Regions from separate parts of the Homo sapiens genome. Here all the other regions are linked to region 1. The links come from fine-mapping of genetic effects on gene expression. A gene starts in region 1. Each other region holds a variant in brackets. All regions are shown on one strand. Distances are between the middles of the regions. Region 1 holds the start of CAMTA2 (calmodulin binding transcription activator 2). Region 2 overlaps ZFP3-DT (ZFP3 divergent transcript). Region 3 overlaps MINK1 (misshapen like kinase 1).

Evidence for each region.
Region 2: its variant is fine-mapped to the expression of CAMTA2 in whole blood (INTERVAL, PIP above 0.99).
Region 3: its variant is fine-mapped to the expression of CAMTA2 in whole blood (TOPMed, PIP above 0.99).

What each region holds. Positions count from the first base shown.
Region 1 is chr17:4,984,563-4,989,806 of GRCh38, reverse strand. It overlaps CAMTA2 (calmodulin binding transcription activator 2), which reads left to right and starts at 2,132. Exons shown (of 23, transcript NM_015099.4): 1 at 2,132-2,214; 2 at 3,521-3,615; 3 at 3,824-3,927. The coding sequence starts at 3,585. It overlaps INCA1 (inhibitor of CDK, cyclin A1 interacting protein 1), which reads left to right. Exons shown (of 7, transcript NM_001394789.1): 5 at 183-379; 6 at 863-1,028; 7 at 1,253-1,677. The coding sequence ends at 1,402. It overlaps CAMTA2-AS1 (CAMTA2 antisense RNA 1), which reads right to left and starts at 2,063. Exons shown (of 3, transcript NR_187235.1): 1 at 1,582-2,063; 2 at 1,215-1,391; 3 at 1-1,120. RefSeq lists a silencer at 2,113-2,652.
Region 2 is chr17:5,065,605-5,076,032 of GRCh38, reverse strand. It overlaps ZFP3-DT (ZFP3 divergent transcript), which reads left to right. Exons shown (of 2, transcript NR_186458.1): 2 at 93-355. Among named protein-coding and RNA genes, the nearest start is that of ZFP3-DT, 7.3 kb to the left of the region's middle. The variant G/A (reference allele first, on the strand shown) is at 5,275.
Region 3 is chr17:4,880,845-4,891,272 of GRCh38, reverse strand. It overlaps MINK1 (misshapen like kinase 1), which reads right to left. Exons shown (of 32, transcript NM_153827.5): 3 at 10,233-10,289; 4 at 10,016-10,141; 5 at 6,800-6,910; 6 at 6,271-6,361; 7 at 5,660-5,790; 8 at 5,308-5,362; 9 at 5,075-5,153; 10 at 4,647-4,822; 11 at 4,094-4,163; 12 at 3,483-3,693; 13 at 1,510-1,626; 14 at 538-756; 15 at 149-322. It also overlaps the pseudogene RN7SL784P. Among named protein-coding and RNA genes, the nearest start is that of C17orf107, 13 kb to the left of the region's middle. RefSeq lists an enhancer at 8,929-8,978 and a silencer at 9,159-9,208. The variant CT/T (reference allele first, on the strand shown) is at 4,628.

The sequences.
Region 1 (5,244 bases):
CTTCCCTCTGTTATTCCCCAACCAGTGCACTGACCAGGCCTTCCTTTCTATGAATCAGTCATCATGTTTTCGAGATCACAGGGGTCTTCCCAAGACCCCAGACTCCCTACCTAGTTCAATCCAAGCTCCCTTGAGAGAGCCAGTTCTTCTTTCTAGCTCTTTTTCCCCATTCTCTGGCACAGAGAGCCACTGGTTGCTCCCAGCTTGGTCTGTATCCTCCTGAGCAGCTCCCACCCCCTGAAATGCTTTGGAGAAGAAAGAAGAGGAGGCCATGTTTGGAAGGAATGCAGCAGCAGGGCCTTGGGGGAGTCCCCGCCCGGGTGAGGGCTGTCACTTACCACCTGGAGGACCTAAGAAGGCGTCAGAGCATCATCAACGAGTAAGGAAGGGAGACATCTGGGTTCTGGGAGTCATGCAGGATTTGGGGGCAGAACAGTTTGAGCTAAGGAAGGGGTTGACAGCTTTGAGGGGAGGTTTGAGGGGAGCTTTGAGGGGAGGTTGCTTGGAAGGAAGCTGTGGGCTTTGGTGTGATTGAAACAGATTTCTGTAATATGGAAAGAAGGAGGGAACTGCAGTAAGGAGGATGAGCCACATGAGCTGGAAGGAGTGGAAACTAGATCACTGAAGACAGGAAAGCAAACCATAGAACTGGAGGACAGTGGGGAGGTTGGGGTCACCTCTGGGTTCCTAGACAATATGCTTCAGTCTGAGGGGAGCAGAAAATTGGGAGTGGAGGGTTAAAGGTCAAATGACAACTCCCTGGAGTCCCAGCAGGAAGTATTTCAGAACAGAAAGGTGAAGAATGGAGAGACAGGAAGCCTGGCCTCCAGGCACTTCTCTCCTCAGCCTAAAGTCTCCACAGACTGAAGAAGGCCCAGTGGGGCAGCTCTGGGGCTGCATCTGAGCCAGTGGTGCTTGGCGAAGAGGGCTGTGGATTCCCCAGCACCAATGAATACCCTGATCTGGAAGAGGAGAGAGCAACCTATCCACAGGAAGAGGACCGTTTTCTCACTCCTGGCAGGGCCCAGGTATTGTTGGAGTGGAACTGGGTGGAGTGAGGGAGTGATGTGGGTCTCTGGTCTTGCATGGAGATGCAGAAGCTGAGAGCCAGGCTGGAGAGCTGGATTTGAGAGAAACAAAAATAACGTAGGTGAGAACCAGAGACTTCGAGGTACCTAAGCTTGGGTACTAGGAAATCTGGAAAGAAGACCTACTTTTCCATTTTCTTTTTCAATTTCTCTCATCTTGACAGCTGCTTTGGTCTCCCTGGAGCCCCCTGGATCAGGAGGAGGCTTGTGCCTCCAGGCAGCTGCACTCTCTGGCCTCGTTCAGCACTGTCACAGCCAGAAGGAACCCCCTTCACAATCCCTGGGGGATGGAGTTGGCAGCGTCTGAAGAGTAAGGAGAAACCACCGATGCCGAGAGGCTAGTGGTGCCCCAGGGACCCAAGACTAGTTCCGTCACTAGAGTCACCCTCATTGCTGACATGAAGGCGTTTCCCCTTCCTTCGTCTCTCCAACTGCCTTTCCCATCCTCTGAACTAGGCATTAACAGCCCCCGTGGGCTCCCATCTCAACCCACCGCTCTCACAGGAGCACCCCAAGTCCTGTTTTCCTCCAGGCCCCGCTCCTGGCCTTGTATTCTCTCTGCTCTGTTATTAAAAAGCAAGCAAGTGGAGCCCGAGTTGTCTTTCTTCTTGGGATGCAGCGATGGAGAGGCCAATGGGGAAGGAGGGCTCCTTTCGCTTTCTCGAGGACCCAGCTACAATGAAGTCGGGCTGGGTCCCCAGACAAGGAGTCTTGTCCGAGGCGAGAAGGGTCCTGCTCCCAGTCCAGCGTTCCTCGCCCGGCCCCTCGGGTTCCAGCACTGGTGGGCTGCCCCCGCCCCGTTCTCTCGAACTGGGAGTCAGTCGGCCGAGCTTCCGCCTCCAGGACCCTGGAATCCTGCCCCTCAGTGCTGCTGCCCTTTTGGGGACTTCCCAGCAGTCTGTCCCTCGGCCTGGCTCAGAGCCCTAGAAGCCGAGTCCCTCTGCCCAGCGCCCCACCCAGAACTCCACGTGTGCTGACCCCAGGTTCCCTTCCTGACCCTCATCCCCTTAATTGGGAGGCCCCGCCCCGTGCGCAGTGACGTTAGACGCCGCTGTCAGCCGGCGCTGGGGGGGGTCGGTGTGGGGTAGAATGGCCGCTGCCGCCGTCACCCGCGGGACCCCGGGAGGTAAGAGCCAGGGCCTCTCGCCCGCCTCTCCGCCCCCGCGCCAGAGGGCGCAGCTCCTCCAGGTCCCGACGCGGAGCGCCGCGCCAGGGACCACCGTCCCTCTTCCCGGTTCGCCCTCACCTCCCGCTTCCGTCCTCCTCCCCCGCGCCAGGGGGCGCCGCTCACCGCAGGGCCCCACGGCGGACCAGCGCGTGCCGGGGACTGTCCCGGAGACCCCCGCACCCGGCACCTGCACTGTCCCTCGCCCACCGCGTGCCCGCGGACTCTGCTCCCGGCTTCTCCAGAACATCCCTCTATGCGGGCGGGACCCTCCCACCTCGGAGGTTCTCCTGGGACCACCACTCCGCCGGGGGGCCGCCCAGAGTGCCAAGCGTCCGATCCGGCGCCGCCCAAGTGCAGCCCAAGGACCCGCTCCCGCTCCGCACCCTGGCAGGCTGCCTAGCCAGGACTGCGCACCTGCGCCCTGGGGCGGAGTCCTTACCCCAACCCCAGCTTCACTGCACATAGCCGAGCCCGACGGGCCTCCTCCCATCTCCATCCTGGACACCTGGCGGAGCCCGTGCTGAGAGCCTCCGCCAGCTCCCATCTGTTCCCCGAGGAGGGCGGGGGGCTCAGGCTGGAGCCAGAGCGGTAGATGGGGTAGGCTAGGCCTGGAGGCCAGGGGAGGCAGAGGCGTTTGGGGAGAGGGAGCTACGTAGAGAGGGCTGTCAGCCGGAGGGTGGGTTGTCCTGAGGGTGGGAATCTGGGTGTCTGGCCCAGATTCTATCAGGTCCTAACCAACCTGGAGGAGAGAATAGGTTAGGTTCAGTTATCAGATCTGCCCTTCCCCTTGGAAAAATCAAACAGAGAAGGAACTCAGGGCGTGTCTTCTAAAGGCCTAGCTTCTACCGGAGGTAGAATCTCCTGCCCTGCCCCCAGGATCCAGGCTCTCTTGCCAAACCATCCTCCAAGGACCGGATGGCCTGAGTCCCAACCCCCAGGACCTGACCCAACCATAGCCCCAGTCTGTGCAAAAGCTCAAGGTTTAGGGCCTCTGAGGCCCAAGCCCTGCCAGTCTTCTCCCCGCTCCCCCACCCCAACCCATTTCTTCCTGCTCACTCTTCCTGTCCAGTCTGCTCACTCATATTGGCTCCGGGCACTGTGTGTTGTTCTCTCTTCTACTGTCACATCACAGTCAGCCCCTCCCTCCCTTTCCTCATCCTTCCCAGATACTATGACCCAGTTCTATACCCACTCCCTACCTCATACTTCTCATCCTGGATTAATGTGGGGGCTTCTGCCATGACCTTGTTCTCTCCCTTCCCAGCACAGACTCCCCCTCCCCCCGGCCCCTCAGGCCGGGGGTGACCTTGCCCCCTGGAGCCCTCACCATGAATACCAAGGACACCACCGAGGTTGCTGGTAAGTTCACAAACCAGGTTCCCAATGTGGCCACAGCCTTTCGTTCTCCCCACGCTTTAGTGGCCCTCTAATTCTTGGATTTTCTGTTCTCCTTAGTGAGGTTTCAGTTTTCCCCAGTGCTCTGTATTGCCTTCAGCCCTTTCCCCTTGGACTATCACAGGGATGCCCCAGGGTAGCACACTAAACCCTCCCTTCTAATTCCCTTTAGAAAACAGCCACCACCTGAAGATCTTTCTCCCCAAGAAGCTGCTGGAGTGTCTTCCTCGCTGCCCGCTGCTGCCTCCAGAGAGGCTACGGTGGAATACAAATGAGGTTTTCTAGGGAGGCTGGGGGTTGGGGCCCAGCAAGACCTAGTAGGCTGGAGGAGGGTGAGTGGGGGGTCTTTCCGTGTCTGTCAACACTCCTAAGTGCAGAGCACCATTCTAAGCTCTTTGGGGATCCTAGGAGAGGTATAAAAACATGGATCTTGGCCGGGCATGGTGGCTCATGCCTGTAATCCCAGCACTTTGGGAGGCTGAGGCGGGTGGATCATCTGAGGTCAGGAGTTCAAGACCAGCCTGGCAAACATGGTGGAACCCCGTCTCTACTAAAAATACAAAAAGCAGCCAGGCGTGGTGATGTACGCCTGTAATCCCAGCTACTCGAGAGGCTGAGGCGGGAGAATTACTTGAGCCAGGGAGGCGGAGGCTGCAGTGAGCTGAGATCACGCCACTGCACTCCAGCCTGGGTGACAGAGTGAGACTCCGTCTCAAAAACAAAAACAAAAAGACATGGATCTTGAAGGAGCCCTCTTTTCTGTGGCATAGCCACCTGGGTAAAAACAAAAGCTACTGCCAGTAAAGTATTCCTTACATACTGGGCACCGTGCTAAACATTTGGCCTGCCTTGTCTCATTTAATCCTCTAACGGTTCTATAGAGCAAGCCCTGTTATTGCTCCTATGTTATTGATGAGGAAACTGATTTACCTCATAGTTTATCTAACTTACTCCAGGGCCTTTTTTTTTGAGACGGAGTCTCGCTCTTGTTGCCCAGGCTGGAGTACAATGGCGCGATCTTGGCTCACTGCAACCCCCGCCTCCTGGATTCAAGTGATTCCCCTGCCTCAGCCTCCCAAGTAGCTGGGATTACAGGCATGTGCCTCCACGCCCGGCTAATTTTTGTTTGTTTTTTTTTTGAGATGGAGTCTCGCTCTGTCGCCCAGGCTGGAGTGCAGTGGCGCGATCTCGGCTCACTGCAAGCTCTGCCTCCCAGGTTTACGCCATTCTCCTGCCTCAGCCTCCGGAGTAGCTGGGACTACAGGCACGCCACCACACCTGGCTAATTTTTGTATTTTTAGTAGAGATGGGGTTTCACTATGTTGGCCAGGCTGGTCTCGAACTCTAGACCTAGTGATCCGCCCATCTCGGCCTCCTACAGTGCTAGGATTACAGGCATGAGCCACCACGCCCGGCTGGAACCTTTGTTATTAACCACCACTGATACTGGCTCTTTCTGGAGGAGGCACAGTCCTTGTGTTACACATTTTCTGTATTCTGCATACTTACTGCCTTGTATGTAGTTGGTTGTTGATATTTATCAATTTGATGTCAGAAGAGGACTGTCAGTAAAACGATGCGTGTATGTGTGTA
Region 2 (10,428 bases), 84 kb before region 1:
TGTTTTCCTTGCCCATGCGGCTAATGGTGAGTGGGAAAAATATATTTTGTTTAAGAGTCCTAAGGTAATCTTATGGTCTCTGCTTTCCACAGGCCCAGAAATCACTTTCTGTTTCCCTACTCAGCTTGTCTACCATTTTCCACGGTTGCCATTGCAACCTTCCTCACTCTGCTCAAAACTTTCTCCAAGCCGTGATCCAAGAAAAGTCCATTTCCATCAAAATCATTGCAAGCTACATTTATCCCAAGGAAAGACGCCCAGACTACAAAAATATCCTGCCGCAGAACCAAGGGTGGAAGATATTTGGTTTTACTGAGCTTTATCTAGTACACCTGCATTAATGGGTGTCTGCCTCAAGAGCCTAAATCGTGATTCTCAACCTTGACTGTGGGGAAAAGCAAGAGAGATCAGATTGTTACTGTGTCTGTGTAGAAAGAAGTAGACATAGGAGACTCCATTTTGTTCTGTACTAAGAAAAATTCTTCTGCCTTGAGATTCTGTTAATCTATAACCTTACCCCCAACCCCGTGCTCTCTGAAACATGTGCTGTGTCAACTCAGAGTTGAATGGATTAAGGGCGGTGCAAGATGTGCTTTGTTAAACAGATGCCTGAAGGCAGCATGCTCCTTAAGAGTCATCACCACTCCCTAATCTCAAGTACCCAGGGACACAAAAACTGCGGAAGGCCGCAGGGACCTCTGCCTAGGAAAGCCAGGTATTGTCCAAGGTTTCTCCCCATGTGGTAGTCTGAAATATGGCCTCGTGGGAAGGGAAAGACCTGACCATCCCCCAGCCCGACACCCGTAAAGGGTCTGTGCTGAGGAGGATTAGTATAAGAGGAAGGAATGCCTCTTGCAGTTGAGACAAGAGGAAGGCATCTGTCTCCTGCCTGTCCCTGGGCAATGGAATGTCTCGGTATAAAACCCGATTGTATGCTCCATCTACTGAGATAGGGAAAAACTGCCTTAGGGCTGGAGTGGGACCTGCGGGCAGCAATACTGCTTTGTAAAGCATTGAGATGTTTATGTGTATGCATATCTAAAAGCACAGCACTTAATCCTTTACATTGTCTATGATGCAAAGACCTTTGTTCACGTGTTTGTCTGCTGACCCTCTCCCCACAATTGTCTTGTGACCCTGACACATCCCCCTCTTCGAGAAACACCCACAAATGATCAATAAATACTAAGGGAACTCAGAGGCTGGCGGGATCCTCCATATGCTGAACGCTGGTTCCCTGGGTCCCCTTATTTCTTTCTCTATACTTTGTCTCTGTGTCTTTTTCTTTCCTAAGTCTCTCGTTCCACCTTACGAGAAACACCCACAGGTGTGGAGGGGCAACCCACCCCTACACTTGACTGCACATTGGAATCACCTGGGGTCTAAAATCATGGCTGTCTGGTGCCTCCCACATAGACTCTGTTGAAATTGATCTGAAAAAAGATCTGGACGTGGATTGTTTTGCTTTTAACTTTCCAGGTAATTCTGACCTACAGCCATGGTTGAAAACCAATAGCATAGGCCAATGGTTCTCAAAGTGTGGTCTCTAAACCAGCAGCATTAGCATCACCTGGGGACTTGTTAGAAATGAAAATTCTTAGGCCCCACCCACAGATCTTCTAAATCAGAAACTCTGGAGTTGGAGCTCAGAAATGTGTTGTGGCTTTTTTGTTTTGTTTTGTTTGGTTTGGTGGCTGTTGTTTTTTGAGATGGAGTCCACTCTGTCGCCCAGGCTGGGGTGCAGTGGTGCCATCTCAGCTCACCACAACCTCCGCCTCCTGGGTTCAAGTGATTCTCCTGCCTCAGCCTCCCGAGTAGCTGGGATTATAAGTATGCACCACCACACCTGGCTAATTTTTGTACTTTTAGTAGAGATGGGGTTTCACCGTATTGGCCAGGCTGGTCTTGATCTCCTGTCCTCAGGTGATCCACCTGCCTCGGCCTCCCAAAGTGCCAGGATTACAGGTGTGAGCCACCAAGCCCGGCCCAGAAATGTGTGTTTTAACAACACTTCATGGCTCTGATGCACAATAAAGTTTGAGAATCATTGGCCCCAGCTTTGGCAGTGCTTAATCTGACCTGCGCTTGTGTGTGAGTTAGGAAGGAAAAGGATAAGTTGTCTCCTCTCAGCCACTCCCCGGCTCACCGTTTGCTTTATTTTATTTTATTTTGTTTTGTTTTTTGAGATGGAGTCTTGCTCTTGTCGCTCAGGCTGGAGTGCAATGGCGTGATCTTGGCTCACCGCAACCTCCACCTCCGAGGTTCAAGCGATTCTCCTGCCTCAGCCTCCTGAGTAGCTGGGAATACAGCCACGTGCCACCACGCCCGGCTAATTTTTGTATTTTTAGTAGAGACAGGGTTTCTCCATGTTAGTCAGGCTTGTCTGGAACTCCTGAGCTCAGGTGATCCGCCCACCTCGGCCTCCCAAAGTGCTGGGATTACAGCCGTGAGCTACCACGCCTGGCCCACCGTCTGCTTTATTACACTAGCCAACCTAGGTGCCACCTGGAGTAATAGGAATCTACTGAGTGAAGGAGACAAGGACATATGGTTTGTAAATACTGTTCCCACTTTCAGCCTGTATGAGGATGTGTATGACTGGGCAGGGGCTGATGTTTCACGGTCTACTAACAGGTTCAGGACTTCCACAGAATTGGCTTTATAGGTGAGTATGAGCAGTTCTGTTCCTCTTAAAAAAAAAAAAAAAGGTAGATAGGAACACTGACCACCCTCCTGAATTCACACAGAGACAAACACATGGAGAAACCAAAGACACACTGCACTATTTCACCCTTGTCCCTTCTCTTCTATCTGTAGAATATGTGAGAAGGAGGGCTACAGGCACTGGCTGCACTCCTTTCTTACATTTTTATTTTATTATTTTATTATTTTATTTTATTTTATTTTTGAGACAGAGCTTCACTCTTGTCGCCCAGGCTGGAGTGCAATGGTGCAATCTTGGCTCACTGCAACCTCCGCCTGCTGGGTTCAAGCGATTCTCCTGCTTCAGCCTCCCAAGTAGTTGGGATTACAGACATGCACCACCACTCCTGGCTAATTTTTGTATTTTCAGTAGAGACAGGGTTTCGCCGTGTTGGACAAGCTGGTCTCGAACTCTTCACCTCAAGTGATCCACCTACCTCGGCCTCCCAAAGTGTTGGGATTACAGGCATGAGCCACTGCGCCCGGGCTCCGCTTCTTATCACTGCCAGCTGCTTCCTTACTCCTGCCTTTCTTCTTTTAACTAGGCCAACCTCACAGAACATCCTACATACCCAAAGTCTCACTCAATGTGACACAGACGAATCTTGCCTCATGTGATTTAACTATTTCCTACAGACACACAGCTGTCCTTGAGGTCCAGGACCATGTCACATGTCTTTGAGAGTTCTGCAGGAGGCACTGGTGGTGCTGGGCCTCTGTTCAGTGGAAACTTGATGGACAAAAATATTCATATCTCACCTCTGCACAGTAACGTGACTGGCTGAAGCTGAATCAAGGTTCAGTTACATCCTTGGTGTTCCCCCTTACACCTCCAGCTGTGAAGATGTAAGGAAGTAGAGCAAAGGAGCAACTTCCTACTCTGGAGTTAACAATTATACAGATGGTCCCCAACTTAACAATGCTTCAACTTGCAAGTTTTTGACTTTACAACAGTGCGGGAACAATACACATTCAGTAGAAAATATACTTCTTTTTTTTTTTTTTTTTTTTTTTTTTGAGACAGTTTTGTTCTGTTGCCCAGGCTGGAGTGCAGTGGCACAATCTCAGCTCATTGCAACCTCCACCTCCCGGGTTCAAGCACTTCTCCTGCCTCAGCCTCCTGAGTAACTGGAATTACAGGCACATGCCACCACGCCTGGAAAGAGATCAAAATTCAGAATTTGAAGTATAGGCCGGGGGCGGGGGCTCACGCCCATAATCCCAGCACTTTGGGAGGCCGAGGTGGGCAGATCACCTGAGGTCAGGAGTTTGAGACCAGCCTGGCCAACATGATGAAACCCTGTTTCTTTTTTTCTTTTCTTTTCTTTTTTTTTTTTTTTTTGAGATGGAGTCCTGCTGTGTCACCCAGGCTGGAGTGCAGTAGCATGATCTAAGCTCACTGCAACCTCCGCCTCCCGGATTCAAGCCATTCTCCTGCCTCAGCCTCCCAAGTAGCTGGGGTTACAGGCACTCGCCACCTGTAATATTTGTATTTTTAGTAGAGACGAGGTTTTGCCGTGTTGGCCAGGGTGGTCTCGAACTCCTGACCTCAGGTGATCCACCTGCCTGGGCCCCCCAAAGTGCTAGGATTATAGACATGAGCCACTGCACCCGGCCTGAATGCATTTTCAACTTACAAAATGTTCACCTTACGATAGGTTGATCAGGATGTAACCCCATTATAAGTTGAGGAACATCTGTATCAAGGAGGCCAGAGCAACCAATTCTGAACCTGACCCAGCAAGATCACGTTTTTACTGTGCTTGGATGACAGATCCTTCTTGGGCAAGTTCTTTAAGCCTAAGAGGTGCGTTGGGGTCCTGTAAGGTCCATGTCTGTCTTAGGTGAAACCACCGTCCGTTTCACAGTGGGAGAAATGCAGCACCACCCAGAAACCTCAGCCTCCCAAAAACCACCATGAGAGGGAAGACAGAGAAGAAAAGGCTGGCTTAGAGGAGGGGTCAGTACTGGGCTTTGAGAAGGTGAGCGGAAAGTTGAGGTTGGGGGCGTGGTGTGGCACTGAAACTAGACAACAGCAGAGGGTATAGGGAAAAAGTAATCAGAGGACAAAGGAGAAGAAAGCTGCATCCCAGCATATGAGGCTCATCACCAGGAATCTGGAGTCTTAACAAGGTCAGCAAAATAATCGGCAGGATTGCCACCACGGGCAAGACATCACTGAGCCACGTGTAATAATGTTCTTGTCCACTTCTCAGATCCCCAAATGTGCCTTAGAGCCCCACACAGCACAGTATTCCAGGCAGCTGCTACTATTTGTCTGAATTTGCACATGAGTGACGTTATTTGCCATCGCAGGGTCAAGGCAGTCCTATGTGAATATTTCTGAGGCTCTTTTCTGAGAAAATAGGAAGAAAATCAAGTCCCAGGGTCTCCCACATCATAGGGACACATAAGCTCCCAGTGTGACCAGAAAAGCATAAGACTGCCGGAACAACTCCTATTTCTTCACATTTACTTTACTTTACTTTTTTTTTTCTTTTTGAGACAGAGTCACGCTCTTGTCGCCCAGGCTGGAGTGCATTGGTGCCATCTCGGCTCACTGCAACCTCC[G/A]CCTCCCAGGTTCAAGCAATTCTCCTGCCTCAGCCTCCTGAGTAGCTTTATAGTTTCAGGTCTTACATTTGAGTCTTTATTCCACTTTGAGTTGATTTTTGGGTATGGTGCGAGATAAGGCTCTAATTTCATTCTTCGGCATGTGGATAGCCAGTTTTCCTAACACCATTTATTAAAGAGACTGTCAAAAATAAAAATAAAGAGACTGTTTTTTTCTCACTGTGTGTTCTTGGCACCTTTGTTACCAATCAATTGACCACAATTGTTAGATCGATTGGCTCTAACTCTGCTTTCATGGTGTTATTTTCCCAGCTCAAGATGTGGCTCATCAAAAACATCTTCAGGCCGGTGGCTCATGCCTGTAATCCCGATACTTTGGGAGGCCAAGGCAGGCAGATCACCTGAGGTCAGGAGTTCGAGACCAGCCTGGCCAACATGGTGAAACCCCCGTCTCTATAAAAATACAAAAGTTAGCCAGATGTGATGGCGGACGCCTATAATCCTAGCTACTTGGGAGGCTGAGGTATGAGAATCGCTTGAACCCGGGAGGTGGAGGTTGCAGTGAGCCAAGATCGCACCACTATACTCCAGCCTGGGTGACAAAATGAGACTCTGTCTCAAAAAAAAAATAAAAATAAAAATAAAAACATCTTCAGGGAACTACTCAGTCCTCCAACAAGATTCCTTCTCAGTGATGCACCTTTGTCCTTGGGCTGACGCCATCCTCCATACCCCAGTTACTCACTCTTCATACTGTTGTTTTCCATTAGGCCACACACCTGCCCACAATGCTATCCTTGTTCCCACTGCGACTACAAACCATAACTGTGATGATACCTCAGGACCTCTCTCAAATAAAGGGTCCCTTTGTTTCTGGGGCTTAATTCTGTTGCCAACAGCCACAGATTCTCTCTCCGGACAAATCTCGGGATCATGGCCTTCCTCCCTCATTCAAACTCACTCTACCATCTGCAGTAGTGAGTCATTCAAACCATGGTTTTTGATTTCACTATTTTAATGCCATATAAGAAATCTTGAGGTATAGATCTCACACAGGTGAGCAAAATATAGGCTTTGAGTTTGGTTTAAAACAACAATAACAAAAAAAATCCAAACTTTATATGTACCCAACATAGTTTACAAAATCCTCTCATATGTGTTAACTATGGTCAGAGTCCCTTGAAGCTTAGACTGTCTATGGCAACTGTAGATAAGGTATTTGCAGGCAAGGGAGGCCAGAAGTTTAGTGACATGTCAAAGTTTACTCAGATCGAGGCTGGGCGTGGTGGTTCACACCTGTAATCCCAGCACTTTGGGAGGCCAAGGCAGGTGGATCACCTGAGGTCAGGAGTTCAAGACCAGCCTGACCAACATGGAGAAACCCCGTCTCTACTGAAAATACAAAATTAGCTGGGTGTGGTGGCGCATGCTTGTAATCCCAGCTACTTGGAAGGCTGGGGCAAGAGAATCGCTTTAACCCAGGAGGCAGAGGTTGCAGTGAGCTGAGATTGCGCCATTGCACTCCATGCGGGGCAACAAGAGCAAAACTCCGTCTCAAAAAAAAAAAAAAAAGAAGAAGAAGGGAAGAGGTCAGGATTTGCACCTATATCTGCCGATTTCTCATCAGGCTCTTCTCACTACAACCTGATAGCCTTCCTAAAGTCCCACTTAACACACAATCTGCCTCTGCTCCTTTATGGGACCCTGAAGATTCCCAGGCCTGTTTTGCTACTGTTTTTGTTTTGGAGGTTTTTGTTTGTTTGTTTGTTTGTTTTGAGGCGGAGTTTCACTCTTGTTGCCCAGGCTAGAGTGCAATGGCATGATCTCAGCTCACTGTAACCTCTGCCTCCCAGGTTCAAGGGATTCTCCTGCCTCAGCCTTTCAAGTACCTAGGATCACAGGTGCCTGCCACCATGCCCGGCTAATTATTTATTTATTTTTTTTAGGAGAGATGAGGTTTGCCATGTTGGCCAGGCTGGTCTTGAACTCTTGACCTCATGTGATCCACCTGCCTCAGCCTCCCATAGTGCTGGGATTACAGGTGTGAGCCACCGCACCCAGCCTTGCTACTGTTTTGACCATTATTCAGCTAATGGTCAAGATGTGTCCAATTAAATTTTTTAAAATTAATTTAATTTATCATTTTTTTAAAAAAAGACAGGCCTCACCATGATGCCCAGGCTGGTCTCAAACTCCTGGCCTCAAGTCATCTTCCTGTCTCAGCCCTCCAAAGTAACAGGATTACTGTGAGCCACCACACCCAGCCAAAAAAATTTTTCATAAACTACTCAGTCTTCCAACAAGATCCCTTCTTTATGATGAAATCTTTCTCATAGTCAGCTAATGGTCAAAACAGGAAACTTCAAATCTAACATTCAGCAAATCCACATTTGCCTTATGTGTGCATAAAGCATCCCCCTTCTACCAAAATAAAACCCTGTACAATGATGGCGTTTGGGTTACTTAGCTGGCTTCAATACTTGAGTTACTTTAAGACCTCATTCGAAACAAGCACACGCACAAAGCCATCTTGAGTCCTCTCTTCTCACTCCAACCACTCCTCCACTGCCCTTCCTGACTCTTAGCATTTGAGTTAAGTTGACTTGTTGTAGCTTGCGTTGTCTTGTGAGAATATTTGTTTTTCCTTTTTTTTTTAATTTTTTTGAGACAGAGTCTTGCTCTGTTGCCTAAGCTGGACTGCAGTGGCGTGATTTCGGCTCACTGTAACCTCTACCTCCTGGGTTCAACAATTCTGCCTCAGCCTCTCGAGTAGCTGGGATTACAGGCACCCGCCACCACGTCCAGCTAATTTTTGTATTTTTAGTAGAGACGGGGTTTCACTATGTTAACCAGGCTGGTCTCAAACTCCTGACCTTAAGTGATCCACCCACCTCAGCTTCCCAAAGTGCTGAAATTACAGGCGTAAGCCACCATGCCCAGCCATTATAAGAGTATTTTCCATCTCCTCACTCAGTTCTCCACCCTTAGGCATTGCACCTGTGGCACAGAACTGACCAGAGATGGTCTGTACAGGTTGACTGACAAATGCTTACATGGGGCCGGGGCAGTGGCTCATGCCACCCAACATTTTGGGAGGCCAAGGCGGGTGGATCACTTGAGGTCAGGAGTTCAGCACCAGCCTGGCCAACGTAATGAAATCCCATCTCTGCTAAATCCCGTCTTTGCAAAAAATACAAAAAATAGCCGGGTGTGGTGGCACAGGCCTGTAATCCCAGCTACTTGGGAGGCTAAGGCAGGAGAATCACTTGAATCTGGGAGGCAGAGGTTGCAGTGAGCCAAGATCACACCATTGCACTCCAGCCTGGGCAACAAGAGCTAAACTCCATCTCGAAAAAAAAAAAAATCCTTATATGGAAAGTCTTCTGAGATTACCTCGAATTTTAACAGTGACCTTCAAGAAACAGTACCTTAACACAGAAGTCTAATGGCAGGAATTTTAGGCACAGGGTAAAAGTGGTAAAAAGAGCAAAGTAGCCAGCTGACTTTTCAGAGCCCCTCACATCACATTAGATCAATAGGTTTTCTTGGTTGGTTTTTTGTTTTGTTTTATTCTGTTTTTAGACCAAGTCTCGCTCTGTCGCCCAGGCTGGAATGCAGTGGCATGATCTCAGCTCACTGCAACCTCTGCCTCCCGGGTTCAAGCGATTTTCCTGCCTCAGCCTCCCAAATAGCTGGGATTACAGGCGCCCACCACCACACCTAACTAATTTTTGTATTTTTAGTAGAGACAGGGTTTCACCATGTTGGCCAGGCTGGTCTCAAACTTCTGACCTCAGGTGATCCACCTGCCTCAGCCTCCCAAAGTGCTGGGATTACAGGTGTGAGCCACCACACCCGGCTTTTCTTTGAGACAGAGTCTCACTCTGTTGCCCAGGCTAGAGTACAGTGGTGTGATCTTGGCTCACTGCAGCCTCCACCTCCCGGGTTCAAGTAATTCTCCTGCCTCAGCCACCCAAGTAACTGAGATTACAGGCGTGCACCACCATGCCCAGCTAATTTTTGTATTTTTAGTAGAGACAAGATTTCACCATGTTGGCCAGGCTGGCCTTTAACTCCTGACCTTAAGTTATTTGCCCACCTCAACCTCCCAAAGTTCTGGGATTACAGGCGTGAGCCAGCCCCCACCCCCGGCCTCAATAGTTATTTGAATTCAACTTCTGTGTAGGATTGGATGAAAAACACTGACTGACACTAGAGTCCACAATTTTTTTTTCTTTCTTTTTTTCTTTTTTTTTTTTTTTAGAGATGGAGTCTTGCTCTTTTCCAGACTGGAGTACAGCGGCGCAATCTTAGCTCACTGCAACCTCCGCCTCCCGGGTTCAAGCAATTCTCCTGCCTCAGTCTCCTGAGTAACTAGGACTACAGGCTCATGCCGCCACGCCCAGCTAATTTTTTGTATTTTAGTAGAGACGGGGTTTCACCGTGTTGCCCAGGCTGGTCTCGAACTCCTGAGCTCAGTCAATCCACCTGCCTCGGCCTCCCAAAGCACTGGGATTACAGACGTGAGCCACCACGCCCAGCCTCAATAGTTATTTGAATTCAACTTTTTTATAGGATTAGATGAGAAACAATGGCTGACACTAGAGTCCACAATTTCTATATAATATCTGAAGGTCAGAGATCCAAAATGCAGAAACTAGATGACTGACTTATGAGACTGGTTGATCTTGACTGTGGATATTAGAAAACTTAAAATAGGGGAGACTTTCAAATGGAATTGAGGTGAAGTATGTGTGCAACCAGTGTAAGGAGCAGATGTTTGCAGATATTTCTTTTATTTTTATTTTTGAAACGGAATCTCACACTGTTGCCCAGGCTGCAGTACAGTGCTGTGATGTGGGCTCACTGCAGCCTCCAACTCCCAGGCTCAAGTGATCCTCCCGCTTCAGCCTCCTGAGTAGCTGGAGCTATAGGTGTGTGCCACAATGCTCCGCTAATTTTTTGCATTTTTTGTAGAGGTGGAGTCTCCCTGTGTTGCCCAAACTGATCTCAAACTCCTGGGCTCAAGCAATCCTCCTGCCTCTGCCTCCCAAAATTCCAAGATTACAGGCAGGAGTCACCATGACAAGCCTGCAGATATTTCAAATCCATCTGGGTTTCTGCTTCTCCTCATCTTTCTTGTCTCATTAGACA
Region 3 (10,428 bases), 100 kb after region 1:
CTGTCCACAAAGCCTGTGCTCTGTAATCCTGGCTCACGGCTGAGCAGGTGTGTGTGTGTGTGTGTGTGTGTGCGCGCGTGTGTGTGTACCTGTGCTCTGAACAAAGCTCCCTGTGTCTTCATTAAGACAGGGGTGGGGAGAGACTCACCTTGTGCGGTCCCTCCTGGGGCTCCACCGGCCTCTGCATAGGAGGAGTCTGGGAAAGGGGTCCTGGGGGCCCTGGGGAGGCCTGGGGGATGGGGGGCTCAGGCCCCGTGCTGCCTGGCTTGCTCTTGGCCAAGGGAGAGTTCTGCTGCTTGTTCATCCTTGTTCTCTCTTCTACCTGTGATGTGAAGGGATGTCAAGCAGGCCAGCTCTTGCCTCCCTGTTCTCAAAACTGAGGGTCCCACCTGCCCTAACTACTCCCGCCCTATGCTCTGTGCTGTGTGCTCCTTTCCCCTACTTGGTGCCTGCTACTGTGAACTACTACTTCTTGTGGCTCTCCAGGCCTCAGGCAGTGGGACTGCAGTCTCAGGAGGCAAAGGAGGCAGTGAGTACCTCTCGGGCCCAGGCTGGTTTGTCAGCGGGATTCATGCCCCGACCATAATGGTACAGGGGCTTCCTGTCCCCAGGCAGGAGCTGCTGCTGCTGCTGTTTCTGAAGCTGCTGCTGCTGTTGCTGCTGCTGCAGGGACTTGAGGTAGGCATGCTCCTGCTGCAGCTGCCTCTGGAGACGTTCTGACTGCCGCTGCTCCTCCAGCTGCTTCCGCTTGTATTCCTGGGCCCAAGGGTAGGGAGAGAGGGCTCAGCAGGGTGTGGCCCTGGGAGTTAGAGCAGGCATGCCCTCTCTTTTCTCCAACTGCCTAGAGAGGAGATGTATTCCCTTGATGTCCTGGGTGAATCCCTTCCCTTGAAGTGTTCCCATCCCGTTCCAGCAAAGAAGCTCTGAAAAGCATCTTCCCAGAGGACGCTGAGGGACCCGTTACCAGCAGCAGGGCCTGTTCCTGGAGCAGCTGTTGCTGAAGGATCTCGAGCTGTCGCTGCTCCTCCTCTAGCCTGTGACGAATATATTCCTGGGGGACGGGGTGTGGGGTGGGGGGCAGAGGGCAGGGAAGGAGGAAGAGGCAGAGGAGGGCAGCAGCAGCGAGTTGGAGAAGGAGGAAGGGATCCGCAGGAGAATGAGGGGGTGCAGGGGAAGAGTAAGAGAGAGGTAGGGGAGGGGATGACATGAGCCCCAGGGGGCCATGCGGCACAGATGGGGAAGAAGAGGGCACAGGGAATGAGGGGGGATGAGGAAGGGGTCGGGGAGTCAGGGATGGGGTAAAGAGATGGGAATGAGGCAGGGAAGGAAGAGGGAGGGGGTCAGGGTTGGGGTTGAAGGGTGGGAGAAAACAGAGAGAAAGAGTGAAGCTAGAAAAGATAGGAGGAATCTGGGGGTGGGGGAGAGAAGGGGGAAGGGCACGGGGAGCAGGGGCGGCAGGCAGCAGGAGCGGGAGGGCGGGAGGGCAGGGATGCGGGTGCGGCGCTCTACCTGCTCGCGCTCCGCCTGCCGCCGCTCCTCCTCCCGCCGCAGAGCCTGCATGTCCTCCAGCCGCCGCTGCTGCTCCTTCTCCTGCAGCTTCCGCTGCTCCCGCTCCCGCCGCTGTTGCTGTGGGGAGAGCCAGGTGGTCTTAAGAACCATACCGGACATCGCGTCAGCACTGCCCCTCCATGGACAGGGAGGGGAGCCCTCCTTGCTCACCACGGAGGGTGGTAAGAGAGACCGGCTTCCGCTTGTTTCTGCAACTATACCCATCCCCACCCAAGGGCCCGCGGGGCTGGGCTCGGGTAAACAGCCGGTAGCTGTGACGAGAGAGGCTGTGAGACTGACTGCTGCCTGTGGGGTGGGCTTAGCTAGACAACACCTTCCACTCCCCACACCCCACCAAACAACAAACCAAAGCCGAACTCAAAACAAGCCTCCCCAGCACTCCTAGCCTAAAATCGACCTTTGCCTGAAGTCCATATAGAGCGGGTCGTAGTGATAGCCTTTGGCCACAAGAGGGCACCAGGTGCCCGTGCACAGAAAGCACAGAAAAGAGGGACCTGGCCCACTCCTTGACAAGCACCAGTGCCCAGGTGGTACTTTACTTTCACGGTATTTCTGTGGTGGCTTTCACGAAGTCTACCACCACCACCACCAACAAAAGCACAAACCCTGAGGGACCCTTACACTTGAGGGAACTTGTGCCTACTTCTGCAATGAAGTTGCCAGCAGGCCTTCTCCAGGTAACACCTTGTTAGATAGGACTCTGTGGCTGGGCGCGGTGGCTCACACCTGTAATCCCAGCACTTTGGGAGGCCGAGGCAGGTGGATCACCTGAGGTCGGGAGTTCGAGACCAGCCTGACCAACATGCAGAAACCCTGTCTCTACTGAAAAAAATACAAAATTAGCCGGGCGTGGTGGCGCATTCCTGTAATCCCAGCTCCTCAGGAGGCTGAGGCAGGAGAATCACTTGAACCTGGGAGACGGAGGTTTTGCGGTGAGCCTAGAGTGCGCCACTGCACTCGTCACCCTGGGCAACAAGAGCAAAACTCCATCTCAAAAAAAAAAAAAAAAAAAAGATAGGACTTTGTTACTATACTATCTGAACGCTATATTTATTTTATTTTTTTATTTTTTGGAGACGGAGTCTTGCTCTGTTCCCCAGGCCAGTGGCGTGATCTCAGCTCACTACAACTTCCACCTCCCAGGTTCAAGCGATTCTCCTGCCTCAGCCTCCTAAGTAGCTGGAACTATAGGCGCGTGCACCACCACGCCTGGCTAATTTGTGTATTTTTAGTAGAGATGGGGTTTCACCATATTAGACAGGCTGGTCTCGAACTCCTGATCTCACGATCCGCCCCCATCCTCCGACTCCCAAAGTGCTGGGATTACAGGCGTGAGCCACCTCACCTGGCCTATATTTTCAAAACTGCACAAGGCTCTTCTGTAGCAGGTTTTCTTGCAAATTATTTTTTGTTCAACAATGAGAGGGCCTACTTTGGAGGTAGCAGGTGGACAGTGTGGGTGCTGCGGGTTATTGCTTATTATTATTAGAGACGGAGTCTTGCTCTGTCACCCAGGCTGGAGTGCAGTGGTGTGATCTCTGCTCACTGCAACCTCCGCCTCCCGGGTTCAAGCAATTCTCCTGCCTCAGCCTCCGGAGTAGCTGGGATTACAGGCATGCGCCACCACACCTGGCTAATTTTTGTATTATTAGTAGAGATGGGGTTTCACCATGTTGGCCAGGCTGGTCTCAAACTCCTGACCTCAGGTGATCTACCCACCTCAGCCTCCCAAAGTGATGGGATTACATTTTGTGTTAAGTCCAGCTCATCATGAAATTTGAAATCATATAATTGTTTCAACAGAAATGCCATTCATTTAAGGCATTTTAAAACCTGTTCTCCAAGGCCCTAATGGACCCGGGGCAGGTCAGGAGGAGGCCGCGCCAGGCCTGGGCCCTTCGGAGACAGCCCACCTCCTCCACGCGGCGCCGCTCCTCCTTCTGCTCCTCTATGCGCCGCTGCCGCTGGTGCAGCAGGTGTTTGATGTGTGCCTCGGGGTCTCGCTGCTGCTGCTGCTGCAGCTGCTGCTGCTGTTTTAAAGCCTCTGAGTTGCTCTTATTTTCCTGCTGGAGCCGGAGAAACTCCCGGCGTAGAGTCGACTCTCCAGGCACGTTCATGATGGAGCTGGGCAGGGGTGGCACAAAGAAGCACTGGGGTCAGAACCCTGTTGGTTCCCACTCTCAACCCCGTGGGCCCGCCTGAGTGGGTGCTTTAACTGGATCAAAGCCTCTGCCTCTGGCCACTCCCAGGTGGCCAGGAGACTTACCGTCCCCTTCTGCCCAGTCTTCAGTCCTGTCCTCCTTTCCTATTACTGCTGCGCCCCACATTCACCACAAATTGCTCTCTCCCCAGCTCTTGCTCAGTCATTGGTTCCACTTCTTAGCACTCAGAAATTTGGTTTCCAGGAGTCTCTACCTCTCTGTGCCCACCACCCCCAGGCTGAGAGTCCCCAAAGCCAAGCACCACTGTAGTCCCCCCACTCAGCGATGACCGCCCCAACCCCCACTCCACCTGCCAGGCCTACCTTGGCTCTCCTTCCTCTCCATGGCTGTCATCTTCCTCCTCGCTGCCGCTGTACTCATATTCTGTCTCCTCTGCAGGGGGAGGCCACTGCAGTTATCTCACCCAGCGCCCCAGACCCGCCGTGGGCTAGGGAAACCTTGGGTGGGGATAACCAGGTCTCTCTGGCTGGGCAAGCATGAGGGGCCCCACCCACTTCCTGGGGGCAATGGGAGGACAGCGGGTCTCAGGTGTGGGCCTGGACAGGACCGGGACTGGGTCCCAGGGCAGCTGAGGTGTGGCAGAGCCTGTGCTTGTGCTCGCACACACATGTGCTTAGCATGGAGTTTTTGTAAGGATGCGAAAGGCCGGTCCTCCTTTGGAAGGCTGATTCAGACTGGGAGGGAAAGGAGGGAAAACCCCTTGGGGGTTGCAAGTTTGAGAACGATCTCCTTGGACAGGGAGAGCTGGGGCCAAGGAGGGGAGCAGGAAGGGGTGCCAGGAGCGAGCAGGGCTGGCAGAGAGGAGCCAGGCTGGAGTGTCCCCTAGTACCTGCCCC[CT/T]CCAGCCTGCCCACTGACCTTTCTCACCCCGCTTCTTCCGGGATCGGTCAATGTGGTCCTTAAGCTGGATGCGGACCTGCCGCTCCGTGGGCTGGTCCCGGATGAAGGGAAACTTCAGTAGCTGCTCCGTGGGTGGGCGGCTCAGGTAAGTCTTGATGAGACATGTGTCAATGAAGTCAATGAACTTCTTAGACCTGGAAACAGTGGTGGCTCACACTGGGAGGGTCCCCTCAGAAGGGATGGGTGCAGGAGGAAGAGGGTGGATCATTCATCCACAAGCCACCTTGACGTCCCTCCTGTCTTCATATCCCAACACCAGTCACCGCCCTCTGCCCCCCAGAATCTCTTCTCTGGTGAGATCCAAGCCTGAGCACAGAGGGCATGAAGGTGGGGATGGCCTTGTCCAGGGACCTTCCTTCCCAGAGCCCACACTCTCAGAGACCTACCACTTCTTGGACTTGAGCCTGGGCGGAGGGTTCCGAGGAATGAGGAAGAGGGCTCGCATGGGGTGCATGTCACACAGAGCTGGACACAGAGGAGACACCCTCAGTCCCTTTCACTGCACTGGGAGCTACAGGACCCTTCCTCGGCAGGGTCCCAGGACCCACCTCCTCCCTACAGCCACTCTCTGGGCCCTTCCTTTCCCTCCCCTCCCACTCCCGGCAGACTCAGAACTTACGGGGGGCTCCCTCTGCCATCTCGATGGCTGTGATTCCTAGAGACCAAATATCACTCTATAGACGGGAAAGAAGGAACAAGTGAATATTCCTGACAACTCTGCCCTGCAACCTCTCTTCACCCACCATCCTGGCCTCTCAGGAGCCTTCCTGGGCCACACCCATTCCTGCAGCAGTGCCTTCCAACCCATCCCATCTTCCCACCCACACTTGCCTTGCCGTAAGATGTTCCCCAGCCCCTCACTGCTAACATCATCTGACCTTCCTCTGTTCCCCAGCCTGCTCAGGCCCCGTGGTCCCCATATTGCTTCCCGCCCTTGGCAGCCCCCATGCTCCCAACTTTCCACTCCATACCCTGTAATCATAGGTGGCATCAGGGTTCTCATCACAGGCGATGACCTCTGGAGCCATCCAGTAGGGAGTCCCAATGAAAGTGTTCCGTCTGCCCACGGTGCGGTCCAGCTGAGCACTCACCCCAAAATCCACTGTGAAGACACAGAGGGAGGGGTCAGTGTGGGGAGTCACCTCTGCTCCCTTGCCTCACATCCCTGCGTGCACACACAGGACTTGCCTGAGCCAGCTGTGGTCCTGGCCCGACCCAGACACCCCAGCACCCTCCTTTACCCCACCACCATCCTGAAGAACCCGATTCCATCTTCCAGCATCTTAGAGAAAAACCCAGGTAAAAGGATCACGGACAGCATCCCAGGCAGGAGGGCCATCAGATCCCATCTCCCCAGAGCAACCTGCAGAGCACCTGGCCCGTAACAGGTGACAGGTGAAGAGCTTCCTGAGGGATTTTCAGCAGGAGGCAGGGCATTCCAGGGGGAGAGGGGAAAGGGGAGGGAGTGAGCCTCCCCAGTAGGAAGGGAGTTGGGCCTGAGCCACCAGAGAGAAAAAGGGGCCCCTCATTCTCTGTTCTGGAGGTGAAAGGTCCTCGTCAGCCTCAGAAGGAGCCGGCGCACCTAGCTTGACCTCAGCATTCTCTGTCAGCAGCACATTCTGCCCCTTGATGTCTCGATGGATCACCTTGTGGGCATGGAGATGGGCCAGACCCTGGGACAGGAGAGCAGGGAAAATTAGCCATGGTGTTGGATGGGGTAGGAAAGAGTAAGTGGGGAGTGAGTTGAGGGGACAAGGAGCAGTCAGTCTGGACAGGGCTGGGCTGAAGGAGCAGACCTTCTCCACCAGGAGCCCAAGCAAGCTGAGCTGTCCTGGAGAGCTTCCTCAGAGAGGTGGCTCCAGGTGAATTCCCAGCAGTTGCAGGGTTACAGGTGGAGAAGCGGCAGAGCTTGGAAACAGGAGCTTGTCTCCTCCAACAGCCTGAGACTTCCCAAGGTGTGGACCCTGCTTCCACATCCCACCCGCATCAGGCCTGCTGCTCCCTAAAGAGGGCAGTGATGTCTCCTCCCAGCGCAGGGAGGATCTTTGCTCATGGAGAAACTCCAGCCAGGGTAGCGGAGGAGAAGACAAGGGGAGGGGCCTTGAGCTCACCCTGAGGATCTCCCTGCAGATATAGGCGATACAGTCCTCCTTCAGGGCGTTGCCTTTTGTGTTCTTTACCAGGTCAGTCACTGAACCAGCACCACAGAACTCCATCACCAGCTAGGATCCCAGGAAGGTACCGAAAGGAAAAGTATCAGTCAGACAAGCCCTCCCACCCCTGCCCCAATCCCCTGCTAGACTCCTGGAGGAGGATAAGAGACCTTGGGGTTAGAACTGGTATGAGCTAGAGAGCAAGGGCCACAGAAGCCTCACAAAGGCCACAGGATTTCCTCAAGTCAAGACAGAGAGGGAAAAAGGCTGGGTGCGGTGGCTCATGCCTGTAATCCCAGCACTTTGGGAGGCTGAGGCAGGCGGATCACCTGAGGTCAGGAGTTCAAGACCAGCCTGGCCAACATGGTGAGCAAGACTCCGTCTCAAAAAAAAAAAAAAAAAAGAGGAGAAGGAATACAGATGGAAAAGAACTGGCAGGGTGGGGCTGGGTTTAGAGTAGGAGTCCAAGGAATCCCTGAAACTGTAAACAAAATGATGCAGGTATATGCATTTTCCCTGAGGAAGGGTCTAGTACTTTCATCAGATTCTCATTGGGATTCCAAACCCTACAGCGGTTAAGAACTACTGCTTTATGGCTGGGCGCGGAGGCTCACTCCTGTAATCCCAGCATTTTGGGAGGCCGAGGTGGGTGGATCACAAGGTCAGGAGTTCAAGACCATCCTGGATAACACGGTGAAACCCTGTCTCTACTAAAAAAAAAAAAAAAAAAAAAGTAGCCGGGCGTGGTGGCGGGCTCCTGTAGTCCCAGCTACTTGGGAGGCTGAGGCAGGAGAACGGCGTGAACCCGGAAGGCGGAGCTTGCAGTGAGCTGAGATTGCGCCACTGAACTCCAGCCTGGGTGACAGAGTGAGACTCTGTCTCAAAAAACAAACAAACAAAAAACCCAAAACAAAATACTACTGCTTTGGGCCGGGCTCAGTGGCTCATGCCTGTAATCCTAGCACTTTGGGAGGCCAAGGCGGGCGGATCATGAGGTCAGGAATTCGAGACCATCCTGGCTAACATGGTGAAACCCCATCTCTACTAAAAATACAAAAAATTAGCCGGGCGTGGTGGTGGGCACCTGTAATCCCAGCTACTCAGGATGCTGACACAGGAGAATCGCTTGAACCTGGGAGGCAGAGGTTGCAGTGAGCCGAGATCGCGCCGCTGCACTCCAGCCTGAGTGACAGAGCAAGACTCTGTCTCAAAAAAAAAAAAAGGAACTTCTGCTTTGGATCAGGGCTGGCCCAAGGCCTGCTTCTATATGGTCAGCAAGTCAAGAATGGTTTTCACTTTTTTTTTTTTTTTGAGACAGGGTCTTACTCTGTCGCCCAGAGTGGAGTGCAGTGGCGCGATCTCAGCTCACTGCAACCTCCGCCTCCCAGGTTCAAGCGATTCTCCTGCCTCAGCCTCCCAAGTAGCTGGGATTACAGGCGCATGCCACCACGCCCGGCTAATTTTTGTATTTTCAGTAGAGACGAGGTGTCACCGTGTTGGCCAGGCTGGTCTTGAACTCCTGACCTCAGGTGATCCTCCTGCCCCAGCCTCCCGAAGTGCTGGGATTACAGGCTTGAGCCATTGCGTCTGGCCTGGGTTTTACATTTTTAAATGGTTGCGGGAAAAAACAAAAAAAGGAATCCTAAATGACATGTGAAAGTGTAAAACATTGAAACGTGAGTGACCGCAGTGAGGGTGCTGGGGTTATAGCCACACTCATTCGTTTACGTACTGACTATTGCTGCTTTCGTGGTACAACAACAGAACCGTGTAGCTGGGACAGCAAATATGACCCGCAAAGCCTGAAATATTTACCATCTGGCCCTTCACAGAAGAAGTTTGCCAGTCCCTGACTTAGAAGCAGAAAGGGGGCTAAGAAATAGTGATTCTCTAGGTCTGCTAGAGACATAAAGATTGCATAGGGTCTACCTCGACAGCTGCAACAGGGAACCTGGGAAGACCCTGAGAGAAACTCCTCCAGCACAGAGAGTAACAAGGCCAGGAGATGAGGAGGGCTCTGGGTCTGCACCTCCCAGGGAGAGCAGCTGAGACCCGCAGGCAGAGAAGATGGCTCCAACCAGTCTTCCTGGAAATCAGCATGCTTGTCCAAGTTTTCACTAAAAGCCACATCCAATGCAGGAAAAGGTTGGGTGGACACATATATTTGCATATGCAATAAAAGTAATTTGCATGTGCCTATTCCTTGGAGAGCAGAGCACAGTGAGAGGAGGGGAGGACCTGTGCCCAACAGGTCCAGAAGGGGGCGCCCGGCCACTAATGCCTCTAGCCTGCCGCGATCTCCACCACACACACCTGGCAGGTAGACCTCCCTGTCACCTTTCTCCCTTTCTTTGTGTGCATGAGTGTGTGTGTTCCCAAAAAGCCAAAGGGCCTTGGAGGCCAGGACCATGGCTCATGCTCATCTATACAGAGTATACAGAAGTGCTTAGTAAGTGCTTCTCTGAATGGCTGTTGGGAGGGGAGACCTGGCGTCAGCGCCAAAACTCCCGACAGCCATTGCCACACTCCCTGCTGCTCCATCCTCAGGGACTGGGCTCAGTACCACAAAGGGTGAGGCTGGGGGAACATGTCAGCACCAGTGCCCAGGCTAGGGAGGGGAATGACTCTTAGGAATGTTCTGGGCCAGGCAGGAGGAATTTGGGGGAGGCCCCAAGCTCTGCAGCAGGCTCTGTTTTGAATGATGACCCAGAAGGGCTGGGTGCTCTGTAGCATCTGGGGTTCTGGGAGGGGTCTGGGCCCTGTTATCTCCCACAAATATTTTGGTTCTGTTGCTTTCCCAGGAGCTGTGCTCAAAGGCAGGAAAATGGATGGACGGCCTCCCCACGGTCTCTCTCCCCTTTGCCAGGATTATATTTATTTATTAAGAGCCGATCGCACAGTGTGAGACACTGGTTAGGGGAAGGGTTGGGGCAAACGCCAGGACCCCTCCCCACAAAACACTCAAAGGATGAGATGCTGCAGTTCATGGGGGCTGGAGTGCGGGGCCATCCATGAGGCAGGAGGCCCCTCTGGGTCCAGGGACAGGGGAGGCTGGGTAGACCGGAGGGAGGGTAGCTGGCAAGGAGAGATGCTGGGCACTGATACTGAGTCCTAGTGAACAGCCCGGAGACAGGGATTGCGGGGAGGGAAGGCGGGCAGGGGGGCGTTTCTCACCCAGAGCTGGTCATCGTTTCCCGGGGGGCTCTTCTTGATGAAGGCTCCGTAGTAGGTGGCGATGTTGCGGTGGTGAGAGTACTTTTTCAGCATGTTGATCTCCTGTTTGATCTCTTCCTCCTCGTCCTAAGCAGATGGGAGGAGCTGAGCCCTGAGACTCCCCCAACACTCCCTTCTCGCTGGTCCGACCCTCCCACTGCCCAGCTCCACTCCCTACCTCCGTGACATCCATGACCTTGATGGCAGCCAGCTGCCCCGTCTTGACATGCCGACCCTGCGGGACAGAGGGATCTGAGTCTATGCTCAGAGGGTGGAGCGTAGAGAGGGCTTGACTCTAGGAGACACAGCTTTTTTTTTTGAGACAGGGTCTCGCTCTGTCGCCCAGACTAGAGTGCAGTGGCGCGATCTCGGCT